7 separate regions of the Homo sapiens genome follow, and regions 2, 3, 4, 5, 6 and 7 are each linked to region 1. Evidence: fine-mapped expression QTL. A gene starts in region 1. Each other region holds a variant in brackets. All regions are shown on one strand. Distances are between the middles of the regions.

Region 1 (4,066 bases):
GCATGAACCACCGCACCCGGCCAAGATGAATAATTTAATGCATTATTATTATTTTTATTATTATTATTTGAGACAGGGTCTCACTGTCGTCTATGTTGGAGTGCAGTGGCAGGATCACTGCTCACTGCAGCCTGCATGTCCTGGGCTCGAACGATCCTCCTGCCTCAGCCTTCCAAGTGGCTGGGAGTACAGGCACACACCACCACACCCACATGGCTAATTTTTTAAGTTTTATTTAGAGACGGGGTTTTGCCATGTTGCCCAGGCTGTTCTTGAACTCCTGGACTCAAGCAACCTTCCCACCTTGGCCTCCCAAAAGCGCTGGAATTACAGGCCTGAGCCACCGTGCCTGGCCCTAATGCACTATTTTAATAAATAACAATTAATGCAAAAATCTGTGATGAGGACCAGGCACTGTGGCTCAGGCCTGTAATCCCAGCAGTTTGGGAGGCCGAGGCAGGCAAATTGCTTGAGCCCAGGAGTTTGAGACTAGCCTGGGCAACACGGCGAAACCTTATCTCTACACACAAAAAAAATACAAAAATTAGCCAGGTGTGGTGGCCTGTGCCTGCAGTCCCAGCTACTCAGGGGGCTGACACGGGAGGATGGCTTGAACCCAGGAAGCAAATGTTGCAGAGAGCTGAAATCGCACTGCTGCACTCCAACCTGGGCCACAGAGAGAGACTCTGTCTCAAGACAAAACAAAAAAACCAGAAAAACAAAAAACCAACCAAACAAACAAAAAAAAACTATGATGAACAAATTATCAAAATTTTAAATAAAGGAAGGATCTAGCACTGTAGTTGCATGACAGTACCTCATTCTCCTTACCCCAATTTCAATAAAATTTTATTTATAAAAACAGACCACAGCTGGGTGTGGTGGCTCACTCCTATAATCCCAGCAACTCAGGAGGCTGAGATGGGAGGATTGCTTGGGTGACAGATCCCCCACTCAACAAAAACAACAACAACAACAAAAACAGGCCATCATCACAGGTAATAAAAGAAAAAATACATAACTTGGACTATATCAAAATTTAAAACTTCTGTATATCAAAAGATGCAATGAACAGAGTAAAAAGACAACTCATAGAATGGAAGGAAATATTTGCAAATCACATCTGATAAGGGGTTAATATCCAGAGTGTATAAAGAACTCCTACAACCCAATAACCAAAAAAAAAGAAAGAAAGAAAGAAAAAGCCACTCAGATTTTAAAATGGGTAAAGGACTTAAAGAGATATTTCTCCAAAGAAGATATACAAGTGGCCACTAAGCACATGAAAGGATGCACAACATCACTAATCATTAGGGAAAAGCAAATCGAAACTACAATGAAGTATCACCTCACACCCATTAGGATGGCTATGTAAAAAACCCCAGAAAATAACAAGTGTTGGTGAGGATGTGGAGAAACTGGAACCCCCATGTACTGTTGGTGTGCACCTGTATCTATAAAATGGAATATTATTTAGCCTTAAAAAGGAAGGAAATTCTAATATATGCTGCGATATGGATGAACCTTGAAGACCTTATGCTAAGTGAAATAAGTCAGTGACAAAAATGCAAATACTGTATGATTCTACTTACATGAGATACCTAGAGTAGTCAAAATCATAGAGACATAAAATAGTAGAATGGTGGTTGCCAAGGGCTGGGGAAAGGGGGAAAAGGGGAGTTGCTTAACTGGTATAGAGACTTAGCTTGGCAAGATGAGAAGAATTCTAGAGATCTATTGCACAACAATGTGAACATACTTAACACAACTGAACTCTATACTTAAAAAGTGGTTTGGACGGTAAATTTCATATTTCCGTGTATTTTACCACATCTTTATAAAAGGGAGGCACGGACTAGTTTCCAGGTTTCATTCACATAAACATTGCAATAAAACATTTACCTTGATGCCCAGGAGGTAAATATCCCCCTCCACACCAGCACAAAGGCAGGCAAGGACCCCCAGTGGCTTTTTCCTCATGATTGGGTGGGGCAAGGGAGAGAAAAAGATGCCTCGAAACGAACTTGGAGATCTCGTGGCTCCTGGAGCAGGCCACTTACCTTGTGGGCACATCAGGGTATTGAGTGTGTCGGAAAACACTTTCCAGCTCCTCCACCTGCAACAGCGTGAACTTCGTGCGCCGAGTTCGTGGCTGCATGTTCTCGGGCTGCGGACCCTCCATGGCCGCCTGGGCCGGCTCCTCCGGCGGGGGCTGCGGCTGCTGCCGAGGCTCCTGGTTTCCACCGCCGCCCTCGGGGATCATGCCGCCATCGCGGTTCATGCCGTTCTCGTGGTTCACACCGCCCTCAGGGTTCATATTACCCATGAGGCCTGGAGCTCCTTGGCCAACATGGCCTTCTGCGCTTGATGCTGCCCCCAGCTGAGGTGTGGGGCTTATTTTTACCTGGTATACACTCAGGCAGTAGAACACGGTGTCGTGGACGAGCGAACGCGCCATGGCTGGAGCGCTGCGCCCCTGCACAAACTCCGTGGCGTCTGCAGCTGGAGTGGGGGTTAGAGGGTGGAGCTAGTTCCTGTTCTCATGCTTGGTATTGGTTACAGTTGCAATGAGTGGGACTTGCTTATGCGCACAAGCAAGAGAGGGAATGGAGAGGAGTGGGGGGATGGGAAGTTGGGGGGTGCGGGTGGGGAGTGGGGGTGTTGCAGGTGGGAGTGGGGGGTTGTGAGTGTGGGGTGGGGTGCAGGTGGGGATGGGGGTGTGGGTGGAGGGTGGGGGGTGCACAGTGAGGGTGGGGGTTGCGGGTGAGGGTAGGGGTTGTGGGTTGGGGTGGGGGTTGCCGGTGGGGGTACATGGTGGGGGTGGGGGTAGCGGGTGGAGATGGGAGGTGTGGGTGGAGGGTGCGTGGTGGGGGTAGGGGTTGTGGGTGGGGGTGAGGGGTGTGGTATGGGTCGTGGGTGGGGGTGGCAGTTGAGGGTGGAGTGGGGTGGCCAAAACACAGGGGCAGTGTGGAGAAGAAAAGGGCCAATAGGAGGCATATATGTATGCAACATGGGGCCCCAGCTTGCAGCTTTGCTGACTACACCCTACTCGGGCCTAGTTATTACCCTGAGGAAAGCTGATTTGGGGGCTCAGAGGGGAGGTGAGATCTCACGGTGACCATAGGACGCCTTGAGTAAAAGTTTGGAGAATATCTCATGGCCTGACCCTCCATATTTGGCAGCATGCACAGGGCGCGGGCTATTAATTAAGCAGAAATGATTGACTGGGGGCTGCTTGTTCAGAGTTCCAGCAAAGGCACTGAAAGCAGAGCTGCCATGCTCTCTTCAGTGCTGGGATCGGGATCTTGGAGATGGGCATGCAGAGCATTCTGGGTGGTAAGATGTGCTCTGCAAGAAATCTAACGCACCCTTTGAGAAAGTCAACACAGAATAAACACGAGGCTGAATCTGTTAGCCTGAGACTGAATATCTTTGGCTATGCAAGAGAAACCTGTACTCATGGCAAAATGGAGTGCTATAAGGACAAGCAAAAAATAAATAAATAAATAAAATCGGGGATGGTATAGGAAGAGCACCAGTAAGGGCATACCTGCCAAAAATCTCCAATCTTGGGATGGAGATTTGGGATTTAAGGATATGCAGCTTACTGGATGTGGGGCCACTTCTGCTCCACAGAGCCTTGTAACTACACAGCCTTCCTACCACTGACCCCAATAAGCCCAATTACGAAGAAAAACCCTGAAGAGCCTGGTGCAGTGGCTCCTGCACTAGTCCCAGCTACTCAGGAGGCTGAGATGGGAGGATCACTTGAACCCAGGAGTTTGAGGCTGTGGTGAGCTAGAATCACATGGCAGCACTCCAGCCTGGGCAACAGACAGAGGCCCCTTTTCTTTAAAATAAATAATAAAATAAGAAATAAAATGAAAATGAAAGAAAGGAAAGCGCTAAGAGAGTCTGTCATGAGGAAGGGCATGGAGATGTCTTTTGAGGGTGGACAACTCATGAATCCTTAATTTTTCTAGAGATTGTGTGTGTGCTCTTAAGTGATGTTATATACTTTATTTTGTTTTTTAAAAATATTTTTAAAAATTTTATTTTTAAATGT
Region 2 (4,066 bases), 210 kb before region 1:
TGCAGTGCACATCATCATGCATTATCTCGTTTAATCCTCACAACAAAACTGTGTGTGGGTATATCAGTGTACCCATTTAAAAGATGAGAACTTTGCACAAATTGCCCAACCTCTCTCTGATTGAGCAGCAAAACAAAGTTATGATCATATGTCTGTCTGATTTTTTTTTTTTTTTTGTGGGACAGGGCATTGCTCTGTCACCCAGGGCTGCAGTGCAGTGGCACCATCTTGGCTCACTGCAACCTCTGCCTCCTGGGTTCAAGGGATTCTCCTGCCTCAGGCTCCCGAGTAGATGGGACTACAGGTGCATGCTACCATGCCTGGCTAATTTTTGCATTTTTAGTAGAGATGGGGTTTCACCATGTTGGCCAGTCTGGTCTCAAACTCCTGACCTCAAGTGATCTGCCCACCTCAGCCTCCCAAAGTGCTGGGATTACAAGCGTGAGCCACTGTGCCTGGCCTGATACATTCTTTTTAAAAAATATTTATTTATTTATTTATTTATTGAGACAGAGTCTTGCTCTGTCGCCCAAGCTGGAGTGCAGTGGCGCAATCTCGGCTCACTGCAGCCTCAAACTCCTGGGCTCAAGTGATCCTCCTGCCTCAGCCTCCTGAGTAGCTAGGACTATGGGTACACAGCACCATGGCCGAGTAAATTTTTTATTTTTTTGTAGAGATGAGGTCTCACTTTGTTGCTCAGGCTGGTCTTGAACTCCTGGCCTCAAGTGGTCCTCCTGCCTCGGCCTCCTAAAGTGCTGGGATTACTGCCAGCCACTGGCAGTGGCCACTGCACCCGGTGTGAGCCACTGCACCCAGTCAGTTCTATCTGATATATTCTTTCCACCACAGTAGGAAAAGTATTTTTTTTTCTTATTTGTTTTTTCTCATCAGCTTCTACTGACCCAGGAAAAGTACTTTTGGATGACAAAAATAATGCAGACTTTTATTATCATTTAAAAATACAAATTCAAATGATTTTAAGGTACTACAATGTGAATACGAATAATTAAACCTGGTATCAGAAGGCTGGTACAGGCTGGGCGCGGTGGCTCACGCCTGTAATCCCAGCACTTTGGGAGGGCGAGGCGGGCGGATCACTTGAGGTCTGGAGTTTGAGAACAGCCTGGTCAACATGGTGAAACCCTGTCTCTACAAAAATACAAAAAAATTAACTGGGTGTGGTAGTGTGTGCCTGTAATCCCAGCTGCTTGGGAGGCTGAGGCAGGAGAATCACTTGAACCTGGGAGGCGGAGGTTGCAGTGAGCTGAGATCGCACCACTGCACTCCAGCCTGGGCAACAGAGTGAGACTCTGTCAAAAAAAAAAAAAAAAAAGAAGGATGGTATAGGATGGTATAGTTGTGGGGAGGGAACACTTACACATTGCCAATGGCAAAGTTGGTTCATTCTCTTCAGGAACACAGTCTGGCAACAGGAATATACAAATGGGTTCCTTATAAAAGAAAAATCAGAGAATGCCCATCACCTCAGACAGTTAAAATTACTTTTATAATAAAAAAAAGACATCACTATAAAAAATGCCCAGTGAGCAAAAAGATACAAATTAGAAAATGAAATTACCCAAAATACCCGTTTCTATTACCCCAAAGGTCACTTAACCATGGATAACAGTTTTGTGCATATACTTTTTCATTGTTTTTTGCCTTGTGCATATACTTCTATGTGTCTGTTGATTGTGAGTGTCCAGTAGTATGTAGTTGGCTAAGCCATCCATGATCAAGTAGTACAGTGAGATACTGTTTCCTGGAAGTGAGTATATGAAGCAGTATCATGTAAAAATCACAAAACACACTCACTGCTGATACATAAAAGTCTGCTGCCTGCACACGGATAAAAATGGGAGGAGATTCGCCTGATGAAAATAGTTAAATTTAATGTCATGTGTAAGGCTGCCTTCATTCACAAAAGGGAGGAAAAATCCACTAAGAGCCAAGCTGAGAAGAAGAAACTCTTAGAACTGAGGCTTCTAGTGGGGTGGAGAAAGCACTGAGCGGGCTGCTCAGGAGTCCTGGGTACCAGTCCCAGTTTATTGTGTTAGACTGTCCCTACCTACTTCTAGGCCCTGGTATCCTCATCTGCAAAGTGAAGGGCTGCATTAGATTATCTCTAGTGACCTATTCAATGTTATAAAGTCTGTGATTGTGTGACAGATTAAACATTAGGGCTAGAAAAGTATATTGAGTAATATAGAACAGTTGAAAAAAAAGGCATGCTCTGGCTGGGTGC[G/A]GTGGCTCATGCCTGTAATCCCAACACTTTGGAAGGCCGAGGCAGGTGGATCACCTGTGGCCAGGAGTTTGAGACCAGCCTGGCCAACATGGTGAAACTCCGTCTCTACTATATGTGCTGCCGAAGCGAGCACAGAAACTCCATCTCTACTAAAAATACAAAAATTAGCCAAATGTGGTGGTGCACACCTGTAATGCCAGCTACTCGGGAGGCTGAGGCAGAAGAATCACTTGAACTCGGGAGGCGGAGGTTGCAGTGAGCCGAGAAAACGCCACTGTACTCAAGCCTGGGTGACGGAGCAAGACTTCATCTCAAAAACATAAAAAAAAAAAAAAAGAGGCATGCTCCAATGAGCCATAAGGGGTTGACTGTTGGGCCCCTTCATTAAAAGGAGTAATGATTTTGGGGCCAGGCGTGGTGGCTCGTGCCTATAATCCCAGCACTTTGGGAGGCCGAGGCATGTGGATTACCTGAGGTCAGGAGTTCAAGACCAGCCTGGATCTCTACTAAAAATACAAAAATTAGCTGGGCGTGGTGGTGAGCACCTGTAATCCCAGCTACTCAGGAGGCTGAGGAAGGAGAATCGCTTGAACCCAGGAGGCGGAGGTTGCAGTGTGCCGAGATCACGTCACTGCACTCCAGCCTGGAAGACAGAGAGGGACTCCGTCTCAAAAAAAAAAAAAGGAAGGAATAATGACTTTGGGAGGCCGAGGCCAGTGGATCACTTGAGCCTAGGAGTTTGAGACCAGCCTGGGCAATATAGGGAGACTGTCATCTCTACAAAAAATATAAAAATTAGCCAGGTGTGGTGGTGCATGCCTGTATGTAGTCTCAGCTACTTGGGAGGCTGAGGCGGGAGGGTCACTTAAGCCCGGGAAGGTTGAGGCTACAATGAGCCATGATCGTGCCACTGCACTCCAGCCTAGGTGACAGAGTAAGACCCTGTCTCAGAAAAAAGGAATAATGATACATGAAAGAATACACAGCTCCTGATCTCAAGGAATCTCGAGTCCAGTGCTCTTCTCTGGACTGAAACAGCCAATTGGGTACAAGTTTGAAATAAGCTGAGGCAAAAGGCCAGCCTACATTTTTTTTAAAGGAGGGCCTGAAATCTTTTTGATGTCTCCTGTACTCCCTCTCCACATTACTGGGACTTGTTAGACTCTCCCAATTCCTTCCTTCTGTGAACCTTCATCTTAATTCAGGCTCTTCTTTGATTCAGAAGCTTCTGGTGCCCTGAGAGCCAGCCCAAGGAAGTTCAGTTGAATTGAATTTGTTGAATACCTGTGAAATCTAAGGCCCTGTGCCAGGAATCAGGGATGCATTTTGACTTCTGTGGGCCCTAGGCACTCTTCCCTTTGTATCCCCCTTTCTCCTTCAAAAGATGAAAAAATTCAAGACAGCACTGGTATAAAGATGAATATAATCATGACCCTAAAATTCATATATTCTTCTTCTTTTTTTTGAGGCAGAGTTTTGCTTTTGTTGCCCAGGCTGGTGTGCAATGGCGCAATCTCGTCTCACCACAATCTCCGCCTCCCGGGTTCAAACGATTCTCCTGCCTCAGCCTCCCAAGTAGCTGGGATTACAGGCATGCACCACCACGCTGGGCTAATTTTGTATTTTTAGTAGAGACTGGATTACTCCACGTTGGTCAGGCTGGTCTCGAACTCCCGACCTCAGGTGATCCGCCCTCCTCGGCCTCCCAAAGTGCTGGGATTACAGGCGTGAGCCACTGTGCCCGGCCTTTTTCTTCTAATTTTAAAAGAAATGAACACATTTTTTTTGTGGGCCCTAGGTATTGAGCTTACTATGCCTTAC
Region 3 (4,066 bases), 330 kb before region 1:
CTGCCTTGGCCTCCCAAAGTGTTGGGATTACAGACATGAGCCACTGCGCCCAGCCAACAAATGCATTTATTGTACCTCCTTCATGCCAGATGCAGTTTGTTGAAAGCAAAGTGTAGCGAGCAAGACATACCCTTCTGGATCTATCCTTGTGGAGCTCACAGTCTAGCAAAGGAGGCAGACATCAATTAATTGACCACACATGTAACCTTATAGTTACAATTGTGAAGGAAAACTACAGGGTAATTTAAGAGGTAGTAAGCAGAAGAACCTAACTGGACTGGAAGAAGAGAGGGGGAAGTCAGGGAAGGTCTCCCTGTGGAAGTGACAAGCAGGTTGAGACCTGAAGAATGAATGGATGTTAACCAAATGAAGAGGGAGAACATTCCAGGACAAGGGAATGGGAGGTGGTACTTTCTGTTTTGTTTTGTTTTTGAGACAGGGTCTCACTCTGTCATCCAGGCTGGAGTGCAGTGGTGCAAGCTGGGCTCACTGCAACCTCTACCTCGCGGGTTCAAGCGATCCTCCCCACCTCAGCCCCCCAAGTAGCTGGGACCACAGGTGTGCACCATCACGCCCAGCTAAGTTTATGTATTTGAGGTAGAGACGGGGTTTCACCATGTTGCCCAGGCTGGTCTCGAACTTTTGAGCTCAAGCAATCCACCCGCCTCGGCCACCCAAAGTGCTGGGATTACAGGCATGAGCCACTGCGTCCAGCTTACCTTTTTCTTACCTGTAAAATGGAAGAATATCTAGTGGAATTGATCCTTTTCTCTTTTTAAAAACTTTTTACGGCCAGGCATGGTGGCTCACGCCTGTAATTCCAGCACTTTGGGAGGCCGAGGCTGGTGGATCACCTGAGGTCAGGAGTTCGAGACCAGCCTGGCCAACATGGTGAAACCCTGTCTCTACTAAAAATACAATTAGCTGGGCATGGTAGTGCAGGTCTGTAATCCCAGCTACTTGGGAGGCTGAGGCAGGAGAATCGCTTGAATCTGCGAGGTGGAGGTTGCAGTAAGCCGAGATTGCGCCATTGAACTCCAAGAGCAAAACTCTGTCTCAAAAAAAAATCCAAAAAACAAAAAACAAAAAAAAACAAACAAGGCTCTGCACAGTGGCTCACGCCTGTAATCACAGCACTTTGGGAGGCTGAGACAGGCAGATCGCGAGGTCAGGAGTCCAAGACCATCCTGGCCAACATGGTGAAACCCCGTCTCTACTAAAATACAAAAAAATTAGCCAGGCGTGGTGGTGCGTGCCTGTAGTCTCAGCTACTCGGGAGGCTGAGGCAGAGGAATCACTCGAACTCGGGAGGCGGAGATTGCAGTGAGCCGACATTGCGCCACTGCACTCCAGCCTGGCGACAGAGCGAGACTCCTTCCCAAAAAAAAAACAAACCTTTTTACCTGGGAGCATAGACTGAAGTTACCTTGAAAATACACTCCTGGAACTAATCCTTTACAGACATCATTCAATCCTTACAAACCTGAGGTAGTCAGGTATGACTGGATATAAAAGTCTTCTAAGAGAGCAAGGTCCCACAGTTGGTTCAGTGATGAAGCTGGGATTCAACCTTAGGCTTGCCTGCAAGACCTTGAGGGGTTACTCTGTCCCTCCAAATTAAAACCCTGGAGTTGGAAGAGAACTGGCATCAATTTAGCAGCTTATGTTGAGCACCAACTCCATGGCAGCTCAGCCTGATTTTATCTCAGCCTCCCATCACAACGTCCCTCTCCCTGTGCCAACATATGGTGCATCTGTGCTGGGGACTGACACCAAAACGTTCTTCCTGCTCACTCCCTACTCCTCATCTCCTTTTCCTAGTCAGGCAACTGAACCAAGTGCTTTGGTGCATTATTAAATTTCATCCTCACAACCTTCTGAGGGAGACCCCATTTTGCAGATGAGGACGCTGAGGGCTTACAACTGGTGAGTGGTGGAGAGCAGGGTTTTGTTTTGTTTAGTTTTGAGATGGGGTCTTACTCTGTGGCCCAGGCTGGAG[C/T]GCAATGGCACGATCTCGGCTCACTGCAGCCTCCATCTCTCAGGATCATGCGATTCTCCTGCCTCAGTGTCCCGAGTAGCTGGGACCACAGGCATGTGCCACCACGCCCGGCTAATTTTTGTATTTTTAGTAGAGACAGGGTTTCACCATGTTGGTCAGGTTGGTCTCGAACTCCTGACCTCAAATGATCCACCTGCCTCGGCCTCCCAAACTGCTGGGATTACAGGCATGAGCCACCATGCCCGGCCCGGGAGCAGTGTTTAATGAATCCAGACTATAGTCTGGTGATACACAGACAGCAGCAAACTCAACCAATCTGCTGCCTGCCTCTCAGTAGGTCAAGGGATGGGCAGTGTCATCACAAGGGTGACTTCCTGTCTTTCAAAACCTGTCATCTAATGCTTCCCTTCTTTACTATTTCAGTACCATTTTGAAATCTTAAAATACATCGCAAGTTCCCCTTCCTTCCTTCAAGATGCACTGATCTAACCCAACTCCCTTCATAGATATGGGGAAACAGGTACTGGCAATTGTACAAGATAGCGAGGGGCCACTGGATCCAGACCCCACAGCTTTCAACTCCCAGGCTCCAAATAAACCCCTCACACACGGCTAACCCCATGTCCATGTCATTTTCCCTTTCTCCAAATCCTAATCCTACCTTCCGAGTAGTTGGGATTACAGGTGCAATACTTGGGTGCCTGTAATCCCAACTATTCGAGGTCTGTAGAGAAAGCTGCCTATGCCATTAGATCTTGGCCTTGTCACTTAACCTCCTTGGGCTCTGTTAGCAAACACCCAACCTACTCTGAAGCAGAAGACTGCTTTCTAATGCTCTGAAATGGTTAGAAATGTCCCTGTCTTGTGACTGCCAGTTAATTTTATCAAGTCCCTCTCCTTTGGACTTGAGTATCGTTTTTTGAGACAGGGTCTCACTCTTGTCACCCAGGCTGGAGTGCAGTGGCATGATCACAGCTCACTGTAGCCTCGATCTTCCAGGCTCAGGTGATCCTCCCACTTCAGCCTCCCAGATAGCTAGGACTACAGGTGCACTCCACCCTGGCCAATTTCTTGTTTTGCCATATTGTGCAGGCTGGTTTCAAACACCTGGGCTCAAGCGATCCACCTGCCTAGGCCCCTCAAAGTGCTGGGATTACAGGCGAGCCACTGCGCTCAGCCTTGAGTAACATTTTTAAGTATGTTAATATTTACCAACTGCTGTTCACAGTGGCAACTTTCTTTGAATATGAAGGCATCACTGATGCAATAAGAAAAAATATTTGCAGTCAGGCCGGGGACAGTGGCTCACACTTGTAATCCCAGCACTTTGGGAGGCCAAGGCAGGCGGATTACCTGAGGTCAGGAGTTCGAGACCAGCCTGACCAGCATGGCGAAACCCCATCTCTACTAAAAAAAAATACAAAAATGAGCCGGGCATGGTGGTAGGCACCTGTAATCCCAACTACTGGGAGGCTGAAGCAGGAGGATTGCTTGAACCCGGGAGGCAGAGGTTGCAGTGAGCCCAGATCACGCCACTGCACTCCAGCCTGGGTGACAGAGCAAGACTCCGTCTCAAAAAAAAAAAAAAAAAGAAAGAAAGAAAAGAAAAAGAAAAAAGAAAAAAAATTGCAGTCTAGGGGTTCAGGAGATAGGTTCCAAAGATCCCTTTAAAGCTCCTAATTTCCTTGGTATTCTGGAGCTCACTCTTCACATTTCTGGTGAGCGCCATGCTCTTAGGAATTGCTTTTTTTTTTTTTTTGAGACAAGTCTTGCCGTTGCCCAGGCTAGAGTGCAGTGGGGTGATCTCAGCTCACTGCAACCTCTGCCTCCCGGGTCTGAGCAATTCTCCTGCCTCAGCCTCCTGAGTAGCTGGGACTGCAGGTGCGCGCCACCACGCCCGGCTAATTTTTGTACTTTTAGTAGAGACGAGGCTTCACCACGTGGGCGAGGCTGGTCTTGAACTCCTGACCTCAGGTGATCCATCTGCCTCGGCCTCCCAAAGTGCTGGGATCACAGGTGTGAGCCACTGTGCCCAGCCGGAATTGCTTTCATCTGAACCTCCTAGTG
Region 4 (4,066 bases), 110 kb after region 1:
CTTATTTGATCATTATACATTGTATACATGTATCAAAATATATGTACCCCCAGAAATATATGTACAACCATTATATATTAATTAAAAACTTGAGTTATTCAATACTTTTCCCTCTAATCAGACTCCTAACTTTAGCTTCCACCTCTTTTTCTACCCCCTAAAGCTTGTGTTTCCTTCCCAAAACATGAATTGGCTTATGTAAATTCTTTGTTCAAAATATCTCCTGGTTCCCAGTGGCATATAGAATACATATCTGCCAGTTTTGTACAGCATAGCCACATTTTGATTTCTTCCCTTTCAACTGTATGTCCTACTATACTCCAATGTCCCTTTCATCACACACACAGTCTGTGGATCTCCCTCAGCACTCCCCCATCTTCTGGATATATCTGGATGCTCCTGGCCCAGGGGCTTGGCTCAGACCTTTTCTGTTTGAGTTATGTACTATATTGAATGCCTAACCATACTCCCTATCCAGTTTCAGTTTTCACTCCTAGCTGATGACTTGGATAAGAGTCTCTTGAGTTAGAAATAGTTTTTATCAATAACATGGGAGTAACAATGCATATAATAGCAATAGCTCACATGAATCAAGCTCTTAATTACTGTGCCAGGCACTGTTAATGACAAAAATGATAAATGTCCTCCAGGATAAAGGGACCTAAGAGACAGTTTGATCAAATGTCCTTACACCCTCAAAGAGGGTTTCCTGATATAACAGGTCCAGCCTCTGTCTACTTGCCCTTTTCTATTCCAACTTGTCAGGAGAAGAGGGGCCATACCCTGTTAAGTCCAGTGAGTAGAATCACTTCATTCATCAAGGCGGGACGTGGCTTGTTTATGCATGAGGTAGTTATTCCACTCTGGTTTAATTTCTTTTAAAATGGGGATGATGACAATTGTGGTTGTTGTACAGATAAAAACTCATGTACAGTGTCAAGCATAGGACCCATGGTTAAGAGCTATTAATATTCAGAATATTAACACATCACAGGGTACCTGTAAAACACTTCTTAAAGAACTACAGTGCCTTCAACCTAGCCTGGCTCTTATTTATTTGACACTTCAGTGGGGAACAAGAATTCAATTTTGGCCAGGTGTGGTGGCTCACGCCTGTAATCCTAGCACTTTGGGAGGCCGAGGCAGGTGGATCACTTGAGGTCAAGATTCAAGACCAGCCTGGCCAACAAGGCAAAACCACGTCTCTACTAAAAATATAAAAATTAGCTGGGCATGGTGGTGCACATCTGTAGTCCCAGCTATTCAGGAGGCTTAGGCACAAGAATTGCTCTAGCCCAGGAAGTGAAGGCTGCAGTGAGCTGAGATCGTGCCACTGCACTCCAGCCAAGGTGACAGAATGAGACCCTGTCTCAAAAAAAAAAAAAAAAGAATTCATTTCAGGAAGATAGTTCTGAGAGGCGAAAGAAGAGGAGAAGCAGGGAGGAGTGGGAGGATGAGGTAGCAGCAGTACCCACAGTGATGCAGGAGCTCCTGGATGGGAACCTGGAGGGCAGTGGTGTTTTTATTGCCTCTTCCATGATTAGAAAATAAGTTTTGAACTTTGGGGGCTTTAAGGAGTGGAAATGAGAAAAGTAAATACAGAGGCTGTTAGCCCTTCTTAAGGGAGAATACTACTGTCTTCTGTGTATCTTCATGTTGGGACTCAGTCTGAGCTGGAAGTATTCAAATTAATGCACTGAGGAGCTGGATTATACAAAAATTAGCTGGGCATGGTGGCATGCACCTGTAATCCCAGCTACTTGGGAGGCTAAGGCAGGAGAATTGCTTGAACATGGGAGTCAGAGGTTATAGTGAGCTGAGATCACGCCACTGCACTCCAGCATGGGCGACAGAGCAAGACTCCGTCTCTAAATAAATAAATAAATAGGGCCAGGAGCGGTGGCTCATGCCTGTAATCCCAGCACTTTGGGAGGCCGAGCAGGCGGATCACGAGGTCAGGAGATAGAGACCATCCTGGCTAACACGGTGAAACCCTGTCTCTACTAAAAATACAAAATAATTAGCTGGGCGTGGTGACAAGCACCTATAGTCCCAGCTACTCGGGAGTTCTGAGGCAGGAGAATGGCGTGAACCTGGGAGGCAGAGCTTGCAGTGAGCGGAGATCGCGACACTGCACTCCAGCCTGGGCGACAGAGCAAGACTCCCTCTCAAAAATAAATAAATAAATAAATAGGGTTCAATTGTACTTAACTATTTGAAGTATTTAAAACCAAGCATAACCTCTGAGCTAAAATGAGTGATTTTGTAAATATTTAGGCAGTGGTGTGAGGAAGTAATTCACCCCCAAAACACACTAATGTACATTTAGTTATAATGAGACTGAAGCAGGGAGATGAAGGCCAAGTCCTTCTGCTGTTGTTCTTAAGCCTTTGGTAAAGCAACATAGGGAGTGGCATCTTTAGATTTGTC[T/TA]AAAAAAAACAAAGAACAGTTACAAATAAAATTCCATGCACATGTATCCCAGAACTTAAAGTAATATATATATATGGCAAAAAACCACAAAAACAAATAAAATTCCAGACAGAAAGACGATGCAAATATTAGAGAATTATACACAAAGTATGCCTTGCAGCTGCCACACAAACTCAACATTATGAAACTATCAAATGCACAAATGAACACTCTCTTGAGGAATTTCTAATATCAAAGGAATTGTTTTCTTCCCTTTTGGTGGTACAATTATGAAGAGGTGGGTTTTGCAGAATTTGTTTAGTGGTGGTAGGGTGGCTGTCAATTCAGGGTTGATTCAAACCTCTGTTAATTTGAAATACTCTTCCATTTTCTCCAGTAGTGAAGACTTATTTGTAGGTCATGAGATCAAAAGGTGACTACCTGAGACCGTGGAAAACCTAAAGTTGTGTCAAAGAACTATTGCCAGGGAAAAAACATCAAGATGAGTTTATTGTTAGTTTTGCTGCAGAGAGAGAGAGAGAGAGTGTGTGTGTGCATGCAGTAATGGAAACATGTGCAGATCTGATGGTGGGTTGTCCAAAACAAGCAGCCCCTGAGTGCTGTCATCCTAACACCATAGGTAGGGCTCACAGTCAGTCTTGGCTGACTCCCACAGTCAGGTTGGGAGGATGAAAGAAACCTCCACTATCTCAGGAGGCATGGAAAGCTCAGAGGAAACGAAAGACAAGGTTTGATGAGCTGCTTTTCTGGTTTTCATAGTGGTCTCTTAATAGAATTCTGAAAAGGAAAAGGAGCCACAAGAAAAAAGAGAAAGAAAATGTTCTCATCTATTTCCAAATTCTAAGGCATGACCTTCCCCCAAGAAACTCTTGGTAGATGTTTTCTCCCTTTCTCTTATTTGCAAATATAATAGAACTGTTTTATGTAATCAGTACTGGGAATAGGGAACTAATATTGGCCCATAAAACAGCCTACTTTGGGGATCGGCTATTTAGGGAGATTTGATAATAGATTTGAACATGCCCAAAATGAGCTCTATTACACTAGCCTTCTTTAGACTATATTCATGCAGAGAAAGGATCCTAAATCCTAAAATAGGAGAGTGAAAGTGAGGAGTCAGACAGGGAGAAAAGGCCTGTAGTGTCACAATTTGCAGATTGGGAACTTCCAAAAGGATTAAATACAATGTTAACTCCATTAACTAGGATGCTGAGTAGACGTAAAGCCCACCTGACATGGTTGTTTTGTTCTGTTTTTTAGTAGCTGCCAGGCATTTAAGAAAAAGCCTTTTCTGTGACCCCCCACACCCACATTGATGTTGACCTTGCATTAAAATGACTAGTTCTGTTATGGGATCTTTGGAGTGTCAATTTTCTGGCCAGAAACCTCTGTGGCTGGTGACATCTTTGCCCTAGTTCTTGTCCTGTGTCCAGGAAGAATGAGGTATGCGACAAGTGAAGAGTGAACAAGACAAAGAGGCGCCTGAGTTCTTGTCCTGCATCCAGGAAGAATGAGGTATGCGAACAAGTGAAGGGTGGACAAGGAGGAAGAGGAGCTTTATTAAGTGTTAGAACAGCTCAGAGGAGAACCACAGTGAGTAGCTCCTCTCTGTAAGCAGGTAATCCCATCTCTCCAT
Region 5 (4,066 bases), 170 kb before region 1:
TCCCAGGTTCAAGTGATTCTCCTGCCTCAGCCTCCTGAGTAGCTGGGATTACAGACATGTGCCATCATGCACAGCTAATTTTTTATTATTTTTTAAATTTGTACAAATCTATGGGATACATGTGAAATTTTGTTACATGTATATAATGTGTAGTGATGACGTCAGGGTATTTAAGGTGTCCATTATCTGAGCACAATACATTTTTGTTAAGTGTACTCTCGGCCTGGTATGGTGGCTCACGTCTGTAATCCCAGCACTTTGGGAGGCAGAGGCGGGTGGATCACTTGAGGTCAGGAGTTTGAGACCAGCCTGGCCAACATGGCGAAACCCTGTCTCCACTAAAAATACAAAAATTAGCTGGGCCTGGTGGCACGTGCCTGTAATCTCAGCTACTAGGGTGGCTGAGGCACGAGAATCGCTTGAACCCGGGAGGCTGAGGTTGCAGTGAGCCGAGAGTGAGATTGCACCACTGCACTCCAGCCTGGGCAACAGAGTGAGACTGTGTTTCCAAAAAAAAATAGTGTACTCTCACTCTACCATGCTGTCAATATCAAACATTGAATTTGGGGCTGGGCATGGTGACTTACACCTGTAACTCCAGAAATTTGGGAGGCCGAGGCGGGCCAATCACTTGAGCCCAGGAGTTGGAGACCAGCCTGGGAAACATAGGGAGACCCTGTCTCTACAAAAAATTTAAAAATTTGGCGAGTGTGGTGGTGCATGCCAGCTACTCAGGAGACTGAGGTGGGAGGAACACTTACTTGAGCCCGGAAATCGAAGTTGCAGTGAGCCGTGATTGATCCACTGCACTCCATGGGCGACAGAGTGAGACACTGTCTTAAAACAACAACAAAAACCATTGAATTTATTTCTTCTATCTTACTGTATGTTTGTACCCTTTAACCTATTTCTCTTCATCCTTCTGCTTCCTCCCACATACCCTACCCAGCCTCTATTATCTATCCAGCAAAAGGAATTTGTAATCCCCTCTTTGTCCAGCTCCTTAAACTAGTCTCATTGTATGCCAGCCCAGCAATATAGAGTTAAGGATCAGTATTCCTATTCTTTTTTTTTTTTTTTTTTTTTTTTTACATGGAGTCTCGCTCTGTAAGCAGGCTGGAGTGCAGTGGCGTGATCTTGGCTCACTGCAATCTCTGCCTCTAGGGTTCAAGCTATTTTCCTGCCTCAGCCTCCTGAGTAGCTGGGATTACAGGGGCGTGCCACCATGCCCAGCTAATTTTTGTAGTTTTAGTAGAGACAGAGTTTCACCATGTTGGCCAGGATGGTCTTGATCTCTTGACCTTGTGATCCGCCCGCCTCAGCCTCTCAAAGTGCTGGGATTACAGGCGTGAGCCACCACGCCCAGCATTTCTATTCATTTTATACTGTTTTTCTTTTCTTTTTTCTTTTGTGAAACAGTGTCTGGCTCCCTCACCCAGACTGGAGTGCAGTGGTGTGATCTTGGCTCACTGCAACCTCCACCTCCTGAGTTCAAGGGATCCTCCCACCTCAGCCTCCTGAGTAGCTGGCATGTGCCATGGTTCGCTAATTTTTAAATTTTTTGTAGACATGGGGTTTTGCCATGTTGCCCAAGCTGGTCTTGAACTCATGGACTCAAGTGATCCTCACACCTCGGCATCTCAATGTGCTGTCATTACAGGCTTGAACCACTGCACCTAGGCCTCTACTGTTTTTAAATCAAAGGGCATTCCAACATTAATTCTACTGATTTCGACTTTTTTTTTTGAGACAGAGTCTTGCTCTGTTGCCCAGGCTGGAGTGCAGTGGCAGGATCTTGGCTCACTGC[A/G]ACCTCTGCCTCCTGGGTTCAAGCAGTCCTCATGCCTCAGCCTCCCAAGTAGCTGGGATTACAGGTGCCCACCACCATGCCCAGGTAATTTTTGTATTTTTGGTAGAGACTGGGTTTTACCCTGTAAGCCAGGCTGGTCTCAAACTCCTGACCTCCAATGATCTGCCGGCCTCCGCTTCCTAAAGTACTGGGATCACAGGCGTGAGCCTCCATGCACAGCCCTCAATTTGGATTTTTGAAGGTACATAGGTTTGCTGAAGAAATTCCAAGTCCAGCCTGCCAGTAGCATGATGGCCTCTGGGATTTTCCTAAGAAGTAATTTATCAGATCATGAAAATTAATGCCAATTGATTATCAGAAATCTCCTTTTTTTGGAATTTAAGGGAAAGACGTATGAAATAATGTTAAATGGAAAGAGTGGACCACACTATTGGATATCTTCTATGTATAACTAATTTGTCATGGGGCCAGGTCCAAAAACTTAATCGAGTAAGAGAAATTCTGTGATTTGGGATGGAGATTGGGGAGAATTTCTAATAAGAAAGTTTTCAATGGAAAACCTACTGCCTAACTTTTGCGACAACAGGCAGTACACCTTCACATCAGTTGCCTATAAAACCAACTCTGCAACAGTGATTGGTCTACCTGCCCCATGGCTGGTGGACATGTACTTTAGTTGGAAAGAGAAAACCCCTACTCCTGCACATCTGAATGGCATGGTGCTCTTCTTGCCAGGTATCCTGGGAGCAGCCTGTGTTTCATGAGTTGGCAGTGAGGGGGAGCTAGAGCACACAGGGAGGTGCAGACAGCCAGTGGGATCAGGCTTGCAGAGTTTGGGTCCTGCCACTGCACTCCAGCCTGGGCAACCTCTGCCTCCCAGGTTCAAGTGATTCTCCTGCCTCAGCCTCCCAAGTAGCTGGGACTTCAGGCATGCGCCACCATGCCCAGCTAATTTTTGTATTTTTAGTAGAGACAGGATTTCACTGTGTTGGCCAGGCTGGTCTTGAACTCCTGACCTCATGATCCGCCTGCCTCACCCTCCCAAAGTGCTGGGATTACAGGCATGAGCCACCGCGCCTGGCCTATTCTTCTTTAAATTTTTTTTTTTTGAGATGGGGGTCTCACTCTGTCACCCAGGCTAAAGTGCAGTGGCACTATCTTGGCTCACTGCAACCTCCGCCTCCTGGGTTCAAGCGATCTTCCCACCTCAGCCTCCCGAGTAGCGGGGACAACAGGCGCATACCACCATGCCTGGCTAAGTTTTGACATTTTTGGTAGAGACAAGGTTTCGCCATGTTGCCCAGGTGGGTCTGGAACCCCTGAGCTCAAGTGATCCGCCCACCTCGGCCTCCCAAAGTGCTGGGATCACAGGCGTGAGCCACCTCACCTGACCTGATCCATTCTCTACAGGAATTAAACCATTTGTGTGTTATGGGATATGGAGGTATTCAGCTTCCATTCACTACTCCTCTTCAAAGTCTGAGACTCTGCAGCTGTCTGGGCAGGTGCATGGCTAACACCCAGCGGACTGAGGCAGGGATCTGGGTTGTGGAAATGGAATTTAAGGAGTGGGTGTTAGGGGGACTCTTGTAGTTTGTGTCCATTTGAATTTGAGGATGCTTTCCAATTATGCCAACAATTGTTTTAGAGACTGCGAGATTAAAACAATGTTTTTAATCACTAACCTCTTTTGAAAGAATTTGCAGGATCAAAACCCGAACTACATAATTTCTAAAAAGAATTTTCTTTTAGAATACTTCTTAGTCAATACAGACCTGTGATCCCTGATAACTTAACTGGCGTGCTGGCTTTGTCAGTTCCTCTAACACCTCACTTATCTGCATTTCTTCTCTGATAATGAATTGCTACTACTTCTACAGGAAGAAATTGGATGATATTAGGCCCCTAAATATGGAAAATTTCGCACTCTTGGGTTAGCCTATTTGAATCTCACATTGGAAAGACTGTCATAAATGGAGAACTGTTTCTAATTTGACTCCACTAGGAGGAGCTGTATCTACCAACAGGTAGAAATATGGCTGGAACTTGCAGGTGTGTTCTGAGGACCAAAAGCACAGGATAAAATAAGTGATGTGACCATTCTAGGATATATTCGAGCTAAAGATCGTGTGTGCTCATGCGCACCCAAAAGATAGAGAGAGGAACATTGAATGAAGCAGAGCTCAGTGCTAGACATGGATGGAGAATTTGAGTGCTCTGCTGCCCACCGGGTCCCTAGGGGACTAGGATGTTAGCCAG
Region 6 (4,066 bases), 150 kb after region 1:
AACATGGCGAAACCCCATCTCTACTAAAAATACAAAAATTAGCTGGGAGTGGTGGTGGGTGCCCGTAATCCCGGCTACTCAGGAGGCTGAGTCACGAGAATCGCTTGAACCTGGGAGGCAGAGGTTCCAGTGAGCTCAGATCACGCCACTGCACTCCAGCTTGGGTGACAGAGTGAGACTCCGTCTCGAAAATAAATAAATAAATAAATAAAACCTATGTCCAGATTTCTAAGCCTTGCTTGAGACACAGAAAAATCTTCCTTACCACATAATGTTAAGACTGAGAAGAGATGCTAGCTGCCATCATCCCCTGCCTCCCAAATCCCATCCATTATTTCACTCCAAAGAAATGGCAGGGTCGTAGAACCTGGAGAGCCCTTAAAGGCAAAACAACCTGAGGCAGTGGACTCAAGACAATCTAGATTCCTTCTTAAAAACTCAATTTTCCTCCTCCCTCCAAGAAGATACCCTTTGTTAAAAACATCGGTATAGTGATTTCCTGATTTTCCATCTTGCACCCTTCAAACTCTCCCTTCCTCCTCCTCTCCCTCCCTCCTGTTCTGTTGCTTTCCTCAACTAAGAACTCTCTCCTCTTAACCAGAGAGGGGAACAAAGACCCACCAGGGCAAAGAATCTCTGTGCCTGGGCATATGGCACTCACTGCCTCTCTAAATCCCACTACAGAGATGACATGAGAGGCAGCAGGCCAGTTTTAGGTGTTCCCAGCCACAGAAGGGAGAGGCAAGTTTCCTGAAGTGAAGCTAAAGGCAGTTCTGTCCTGAGAGGCATTAAAAGGCTTCTGTGGGCAGCAGCTGCTGTGGGTGGCAGTTGTACACTTTGATAATAAAAGGGGGTGGTACAACGGCCCTTGGGTTTTCACTTCTTAGTTTTGTGTTTGAGAAGTATGGGGGGAGGGGGTCATGATTCTCACTTCCCTTTGAGGATGCTGGGAGTCTTAAGGATAAAGCTGAAGGGTTCCTGGCAGAGCTAGGGAGCTAACTGGCTGCAGTCCACACACCCTTGGGGTTTAGCGGGGGAAAAGGCCCATAGTACCAGTGCATAGTTTCCTAGCAACAGGCAGGCACCTTGGGAAAGATCTGGCTTTGTCGCAGCCAGGGAGTTGGCCTGGTGTATTCTGGTTCCTGCCTGAGAGTGTGACTTTAATAATGCTGTGGGCAGCTCAGGAGAACAGAACTTTGAATCCTTGTGCACCACCAAGCACGAAGAGCATCTAAATAGCCTACTGCTGGGCCTAGTCAGCTCCAGCTTCCTGAGCGGCTTCTTAGAGGCTGGGGTGGCCAACAGGCTGATGGTGCTTGAAGAGGAGCACCACCCTTTCAGGGACACAGATGGCTTTCCTCTTCCACCTTAGCCTGCCTCCTGCCTGCCTGATGGCTGACCCACACCCTTCAAGATCAATGCGCATTTCCGTCAGGGCATGCTTCTCTCCAGGAGCCTTGTGGGACAGTGACTTCACAAAGAGCCCAGGAACTGGCTGGTGATAATTACTAGTTAAAGACACTGTGTCCCAAGGGTAAAATCCCAGCATCTGTCGGTATTGTGCATTCCCTCTCTGTTCTGCCCCTGGAAGCAAAGGCTAGGGAGATGGAGAGAAGAGTGGGTAAAAGAAAGAGGAAAAAAAAAAGGATGAGTCAGGAACAAGGGAAAGGAGGGGACGAAAGGAAAGACTTGACAGCGGGGTGGCGGGCGGGTGGCGGGGGGAAGAAAAAGTTGAGTGATAGCAACAACAGCCTTCTAAGGCTCTCAGCAACCTGTGCCATAAACTGTACCCTCCTAGGATCAAAGCAATCCTTTTAATAAATGGGCCCAATTTATAATGAGTAACTTTTAGTGGCTAGGGTGAAACCTAGTGTACCCTCGTGATTAAATAAAGAGGAAAAATAGAGGCACTTTTGAATTGCATAGGTTGAGACTTTCGTTTTAAGCTTAAACTTGGCTGGTCACCAAATGGATAGGAAAGGGACCATTCCATGGTTAGAGTAAAGTAGGGGTACTGGCCCAGTATGCCAGACTGGGAAATATTGCTGGGAACCTTGAGGGGTTTATAAATAGCTGGGTTTAATTTCCCAGCAGAAGTGAAAACTGATGCTTTGTACCCTACAGATTTTGGACTACTTGGCTAAAGCTGAAGGGGTGGTGGGGAAATAGTGCAAAGGACAAGAGAAATGAGTGTTGGACAGATGAGCGAGGAGGCAAAGGTAGTCTCAGCTTATATCCTTCCTGCTTTGGAGTATGAGGAGTTCCTGAGAAGCAAGGACACCCTGGAGCCCAGTGTTTGAAAGAATCCAGTTTCTCTAAGCTCAGCACTCAAAACTTCCTCAGGGCC[A/AG]GCTGATCAGACCCAAATCCTTGCTCATGTCTGACCACAAGAAGTGTTTCCCAAGCTTCCTCACTGGACAGCTACCCAATAAGGGTATGACTTTGAGGGGTTAAAACAAAACATTATAAGTCTTTTTTCCTCATCCTCCTATTAGCCTCAGGGTCAAAAGGAAGTTGAAATCACCAAACCCAAAGTCACAGAAATAGTCCTACTTGGAAATAACCAAAATGGGAAGTCATTCAGAAGAAAGTCTAGAAAGGTCCATTTTCTGGCTGTAACTTAGGTCATTTTACAATCAGAAGAGCATGAGGGAGCTCTGGCCTTTTGGGGGTGGGTCTGTGCTTCAGGTGGTTTTATTGTCAGATCTGGAGTGCATTTGCTGACTCCTTTTTATTTATCTGGGAATATAAGCAGACGTTTCCTGCCCTCTTGACTTTCCTTTTTTTTTTTTTTTTATACAGCGCTTCTCTCTTGTTGCCCAGGCTGGAGTGCAATGGCGTGATCTCGGCTCACCACAACCTCCACCTCCTGGGTTCAAGTGATTCTCCTGCCTCAGCCTCCTGAGTAGCTGTGATTACAGGCATGCACCACCATGCCTAGCTAATTTTGTATTTTTAGTAGAGATGGGGTTTCTCCGTGTTGGTCAGGCTGGTCTCGAACTCCCGACCTCAGGTGATCGCCCGCCTTGGCCTCCCAAAATGCTGGGATTACAGGCGTGAGCCACCGCGCCTGGCTGACTTTCTTGTGTAAAGAATGGTATTTTCGCCTATGAAACTATAAGGGAATGAAACTTGGTGAGCAAAAGAAAGCTAAACTAAAATACTAAAATGAAACCATTTAAGTTCTAGAGAGAAATCACTTAAAATCTTACCCCCTCAAGACTTAGGCTATACAATTATAAAGTCTTCAAACAGGAAATACTAAAGACATCTTGAGCCTAGGGAAAGAAGTGGGAGACATATAAAAAGTGTCCAAGCAGCCCCTGAATTCCCCTCTGAGGAATGCATGAAGGAAGGGAATCCTTTTTCAGTGGGGATCAAGAGTAAAGAGACCCTTTCTGAGGACCATGAGTCCAGTAGAAAGTATAAATATCCAGTAGAAAGTATAAATATCCCAAAATTAACTGGGGAAAGAGCTGTGCTCCGCTTAGATTCACAACTTCAAAAATCCCCCAACCCAATCTCTGGAATCAGTCAGCCCTAGATATAAATCCTTACTCTTTCACTTACCACCTCTGTGACTTTGGTGAAGTCACTTAATCTCTCCATGATTCAGTCATCTTATCTTAAAAATGGCAATTGCAAGAGTACTTCTCTTAAAGAGGTAAATGATTGAATGATGATATATGTAAAGCACTTAGCACAATGCTTAGTACATAGTAAGTACTCAGTGAATAGTAGCTGTTATTAAAAAGTAAGGGTGGGCCAGGCACGGTGGCTCATGCCTGTAATCCCAGCACTTTGGGAGGCCGAGGCGGGTGAATCACGAGGTCAGGAGTTTGAGACCAGCCTGGCCAACATGGTGAAACCCTGTCTCTACAAAAGATACAAAAAAAAAAAAAAAAATAGCCGGGCATGGTGGCACGCACCTGTAATCCCAGCTACTCGGGAGGCTGAGGCAGGAGAATCGCTTGACCCCAGGAGGTGGAGGTTGCAGTGAGCCAAGATTGTGCCATTGCACTCCAGCCTGAGCGACAGGGCAAGACTCTGTCTCAAAAAAAAAAAAAAA
Region 7 (4,066 bases), 28 kb before region 1:
TGCCATTCCTTGACATTCATCCACATACAAAAAAAGGGCTTTTTTACATTTGGCAACCCTAGTGCCGGGGCCTGGATGAGAGCTTCCTTTATATCCTTGAAGGCCTTTTCCTGTTTCTTTTGCCATAGGAGGGGCTCTCTTTCCTTTCCTTTTATAGCCTCATACAAGGGCCTTGCTGTAAGGGAGAAGTTTGGAATACAGATTCGGCAGAATCCTGCCACGCCTAGAAATTCCCTGGCCTTGTAACTGGGGTGGGCAGTGCACATACAGCCTCCTTGCGTGCACTTAAGCCTGCGCTGGCCTTGGGATACCATGAATCCTAGATATCCAACCTCCTGAAAACAGACTTTTGCCTTGTCCTTGGACACTTTATAACCAGCTTCACACAGCACGTGAAGAAGCCTCTCTGTTCCTTGGAGTCATTCCTCCCTCGTGGGGGCGGCAAATAGGAAATCATCAATGTGTTGTAATAGCACATAATTGTCACTAGGTGGCGCAAAAGCCTCAAGATCTGTAGCCAAGGCCTCCTCAAAAATGGTAGCATTCTTAAACCCTTACGGCAGCCTTGTCCAGGTATATTGCGATTGCCCCCTCTGACTTTGGGGAGCAAGCTTCAAACAAAAGAAGGCATCCTTTAAGTCCAGACATGTGAACCAAGTGGCATCAGCAGGAATCTGTCCCAACATTGTGTATGGGTTGGGTACTGTTGCATGGATAGCGACAGTGGCCTTGTTTACCACCCGGAGATCCTGCACTGGCCTGTATTCCCCATTTGATTTGTGCATGGGTAACAGAGGAGTATTCCATGAGGACTTGCATTTTACTATAATCCCATGTGTATAAAGCCGATTCAGATGCTTTTGTTATTCCATCAATTGCCTCCCTGGGTACTGGGTATTGACGGACTCATACCGGGGCAGCATGAGGGTTAAGCTCTGCTACCACTGGGGGTCTGTTTGCAGCAAGTCCAGGGTATTATCCTCGGCCCATACACCTGGTACCTTGAAAAGCATCCCCCATATATTGTGTAGGTCGGTTCTGGTGACCTTCTGGCACACGGTTCACACAGCCACCATTCCTCAGCCCTTGGGACAGTTGGAGTTCATACCATTGCCTTGGACTTTCCAAACTCCAGTGTCATATTCCCTTTAGGCGTAAAGAAAATTTCTGCCTGCAGTTTCTGGAGTAAGTCTCTCCCCAGCAAGGGCACTGGACAATTTGGCATATACGGAAACTCATGCTGCACTTCTTGTCCCCCAATAACACATCTCCTGGATTTGCAAAAAGGTCTCTTTTTTTTGGCCCCAGTAGCCCCTACAATAGTAGCACAGTTCTTTGTGGGGAGGCTAATTGGGTGAGTTACCACAGAGAAATCAGTACCAGTATCGACCAAAAAAATCCATTAATTGACCCCCTATTTCCATAGAGACCATAGGCTCCCCGGGGCCTAAAAAGATGGAGCCTGGTCTGTCTCAGTCCTCAAAATTCTTGGCCCCTGCTAAGCCAATCAGATCAGGATCTGCCCTTGATGCACCATGACTAGCAACCGAATAACGCACTTGGGTGTTAGACCATTGACCATCATTTCCATCCT[T/C]TTCCTTTTTGGGTCACTCATCTTTCCAGTGGCCCATTTTCCTGCACTTTGCACATTGGTTCCTGTCCAACCAAGATTGGCTTTCCTCTCCTGGTCTTGTCTGCCCCCTTCCTCGACCTCTGCCTTGGCCACGCCCTCTAGCAAATTCAGGGTTACTTTCTGCTAGTGCAGCAGCTATAAATTGAGCCATCTCTGTTCCTATATCTGGTTTTTCTTTCTTCCTTTGGTTGGGCTGCCTGAGCCACTAATGCCTTATAATATCTCTTTAGACAGGGCTGTAGACACTTGGGGTGAGTTTGTGCTACACTGAGCCAAGAGTCTATATAGGGAAACTGGTCTGGGTATCCTGGTTGTCTTCCAACTCCGGTGACCACGTTAAACACACGGCCAATTAATTTTCTGTCTATTGTACCTTCAGAGGGCCACCCCACATTGAAAGCAGGCCAATCTATTTCACAGTATGTCCTTAACTTTTGAGCATCCAGTTTCATCCCATAATCACCTCTAAATCCTTTTTTAAAATTCTTTATCACGCACTCCAAAGGAGTTGGCTTCGACACTTTTCCTCCCATTTCCTCCCTTGCAGTGCACTTTCCCTCTCACTTTCACTCTCAGATCCACCAGACCAGGTCCTTTTATGGGAGTTTCAGACACTGCTTAGCCAGGAATGTGCCTTCCCCTGTCACAGCCTGCTGTGGCTGTGAAACTGGTCCCATTGGCCGTATGCGGCATCCTAGGTCTGATTTCTTCCACGCTCACCTTGGAGTACACAGCCTGCCCTAAGGGATCTGTGCCTCCTCACGTTACTCCCCGCATTGGCCTCTCCCAAGACCATCTCTTTCATACACTTTCACACACCTCCCCTGCCCAGGACTCCTCATCAGACGAAACGAGCCTCTCTCATGTCCTGGGTGGGTTCACACACACCCACACACTCCCAGTTCCTGTCTCCAGATCCAGTAAACCACTTTCACTTTGTTAATGGGGACACGAGGTTCATCCAAATTAGCAAGCCTCTCCTGCCACCCCCAGCTGCTCTGGGTTGGATTAGTGGTCATTCCCTGGGAGGTGATCATCCTTATGGGACAGGCTTCCCTGCCTTAGGCACTTGCTCCTTACTACAGTTCCTGAAGTGCTGGCATCGTCCTGCAGCCCTGTTCCTGGTTCTGTTGCATTGCCGGGCAGTCTGCTGGGATGTGGGGAGAGCCAGTCTCTGTCTGGGTGAAGCTCCCCTGTGGCGTGCCTTGGATGCTGGGTCTCCCCAGCCCTGGGGCTCTAGTCCCCCAGGCAAATGAGACAGTAAATCTGTTGTCTCCAATCCCAGGCGAGTTCCCAGAAATGTTACGAGATTTTTAAGGAATCAGAGAGACCAATGGGGCTCAGGAGGATATTTATTAATTATTTAGGTGCACTGGTCCAGTCGGATTAACATCCAAAGGACTGAGCCCTGAACAGAGTTAAGTTACCTTTTAAGCATTTCGTGGGTCGGGGGAGATCTGTGCAGAGGAAAGTATACTACAGAAGTGAGAAACAAAGGCAATTGAGACATGCATTATATCATTTTTTACTTTTCAAGGAAAAACATGTTTTGCAACTTGAGTTTTTCTGTCTAGTGACCTTGCAGCTGCACAGCTAAGGAGACAGGGTCTTCACAATGCCTGGGAAAGTGGGAGAGATAAGGCTCACTAGCCACAGAAAAACAGGCAGTTAATTTTAAAGGACTTCAGCTCTTTCTCTTTCTTAGGGGGAATTGGGTTTTCTTACATACAACTGAGTTTCTGCTTGCACACTCTTTAATTTCTTTTAATTCCTGTTCCATACATACACTGGAATATTCTTTTGGAATGTGTTCTTCCTTTTCTTTCTAAGGGATACAGGCACAGAAATTTGTGGCCTATAGCTGACTGTCCTGTTGAGAATTACTGAACTGAACTGAGCTGGTTGAGAACTTTGTTATAACTTTCACATTTTATTGTACTTTTGACAAAGGGCAAAAGAAAAGTTAAGTTCTGTGTAGAATAAACCCAAAGCTATGTTTGCATAATCTTATCAGTTGTTTTGTATGTTGGCAGATACTATCTTTACTTTCAGAAAACACAGAGAGATCAATTATTATACTTGATCTACAGAGTGCTCAGATAATATAATAAAGTAAGTATGTGATTTCTACTATGATCCCAAAGAATTATATTCACAAAGGCAGTAGATAAAAGGTAGGGAAAACAATGAGAACATCCAGTATTACTTATACAAGAAAACAATGTGATTTCCCATGTGTTTAAGAGTTTCATTGGGCCGGGCGCGGTGGCTCACGCCTGTGGTCCTAGCACTTTGGGAGGCCGAGGGGGCGGATCACGAGGTCAGGAGATTGAGACCATCCTGGCTAACACGGTGAAACCCCGTCTCTACTAATGGTACAAAAAATTAGCCGGGCGTGGTGGCAGGTGCCTGTAGTCCCAGCTACTCAGGAGG

What was found. PIP is the estimated chance that this variant, and not a neighbour inherited with it, causes the effect.
Region 2: its variant is fine-mapped to the expression of RHOXF1 in sun-exposed skin (GTEx, PIP above 0.99).
Region 3: its variant is fine-mapped to the expression of RHOXF1 in transverse colon (GTEx, PIP 0.98).
Region 4: its variant is fine-mapped to the expression of RHOXF1 in whole blood (TOPMed, PIP above 0.99).
Region 5: its variant is fine-mapped to the expression of RHOXF1 in whole blood (TOPMed, PIP above 0.99). The same link has a PIP of 0.9 or more in adrenal gland, amygdala, anterior cingulate cortex, atrial appendage, caudate and cerebellar hemisphere.
Region 6: its variant is fine-mapped to the expression of RHOXF1 in gastroesophageal junction (GTEx, PIP above 0.99). The same link has a PIP of 0.9 or more in esophagus mucosa, esophagus muscle, ileum, prostate and thyroid.
Region 7: its variant is fine-mapped to the expression of RHOXF1 in whole blood (TOPMed, PIP above 0.99).

The regions. Positions count from the first base shown.
Region 1 is chrX:120,113,405-120,117,470 of GRCh38, forward strand. RHOXF1 (Rhox homeobox family member 1) reads right to left here and starts at 2,509. Exons shown (of 3, transcript NM_139282.3): 1 at 2,061-2,509. The coding sequence starts at 2,458. All of the region lies in intron 1 of RHOXF1-AS1 (RHOXF1 antisense RNA 1), which reads left to right.
Region 2 is chrX:119,906,970-119,911,035 of GRCh38, forward strand. The region is part of intron 4 of AKAP14 (A-kinase anchoring protein 14); the gene reads left to right. Among named protein-coding and RNA genes, the nearest start is that of AKAP14, 13 kb to the left of the region's middle. The variant G/A (reference allele first, on the strand shown) is at 2,246.
Region 3 is chrX:119,780,883-119,784,948 of GRCh38, forward strand. No RefSeq gene overlaps it. Among named protein-coding and RNA genes, the nearest start is that of SNORA69, 4.6 kb to the right of the region's middle. The variant C/T (reference allele first, on the strand shown) is at 2,000.
Region 4 is chrX:120,219,217-120,223,282 of GRCh38, forward strand. No RefSeq gene overlaps it. Among named protein-coding and RNA genes, the nearest start is that of ZBTB33, 30 kb to the right of the region's middle. The variant T/TA (reference allele first, on the strand shown) is at 2,431.
Region 5 is chrX:119,944,739-119,948,804 of GRCh38, forward strand. No RefSeq gene overlaps it. Among named protein-coding and RNA genes, the nearest start is that of NKAP, 3.0 kb to the left of the region's middle. The variant A/G (reference allele first, on the strand shown) is at 1,808.
Region 6 is chrX:120,262,103-120,266,168 of GRCh38, forward strand. All of the region lies in intron 8 of TMEM255A (transmembrane protein 255A), which reads right to left. Among named protein-coding and RNA genes, the nearest start is that of ZBTB33, 13 kb to the left of the region's middle. The variant A/AG (reference allele first, on the strand shown) is at 2,348.
Region 7 is chrX:120,085,283-120,089,348 of GRCh38, forward strand. The region is part of intron 1 of RHOXF1-AS1 (RHOXF1 antisense RNA 1); the gene reads left to right. Among named protein-coding and RNA genes, the nearest start is that of RHOXF2B, 9.6 kb to the left of the region's middle. The variant T/C (reference allele first, on the strand shown) is at 1,595.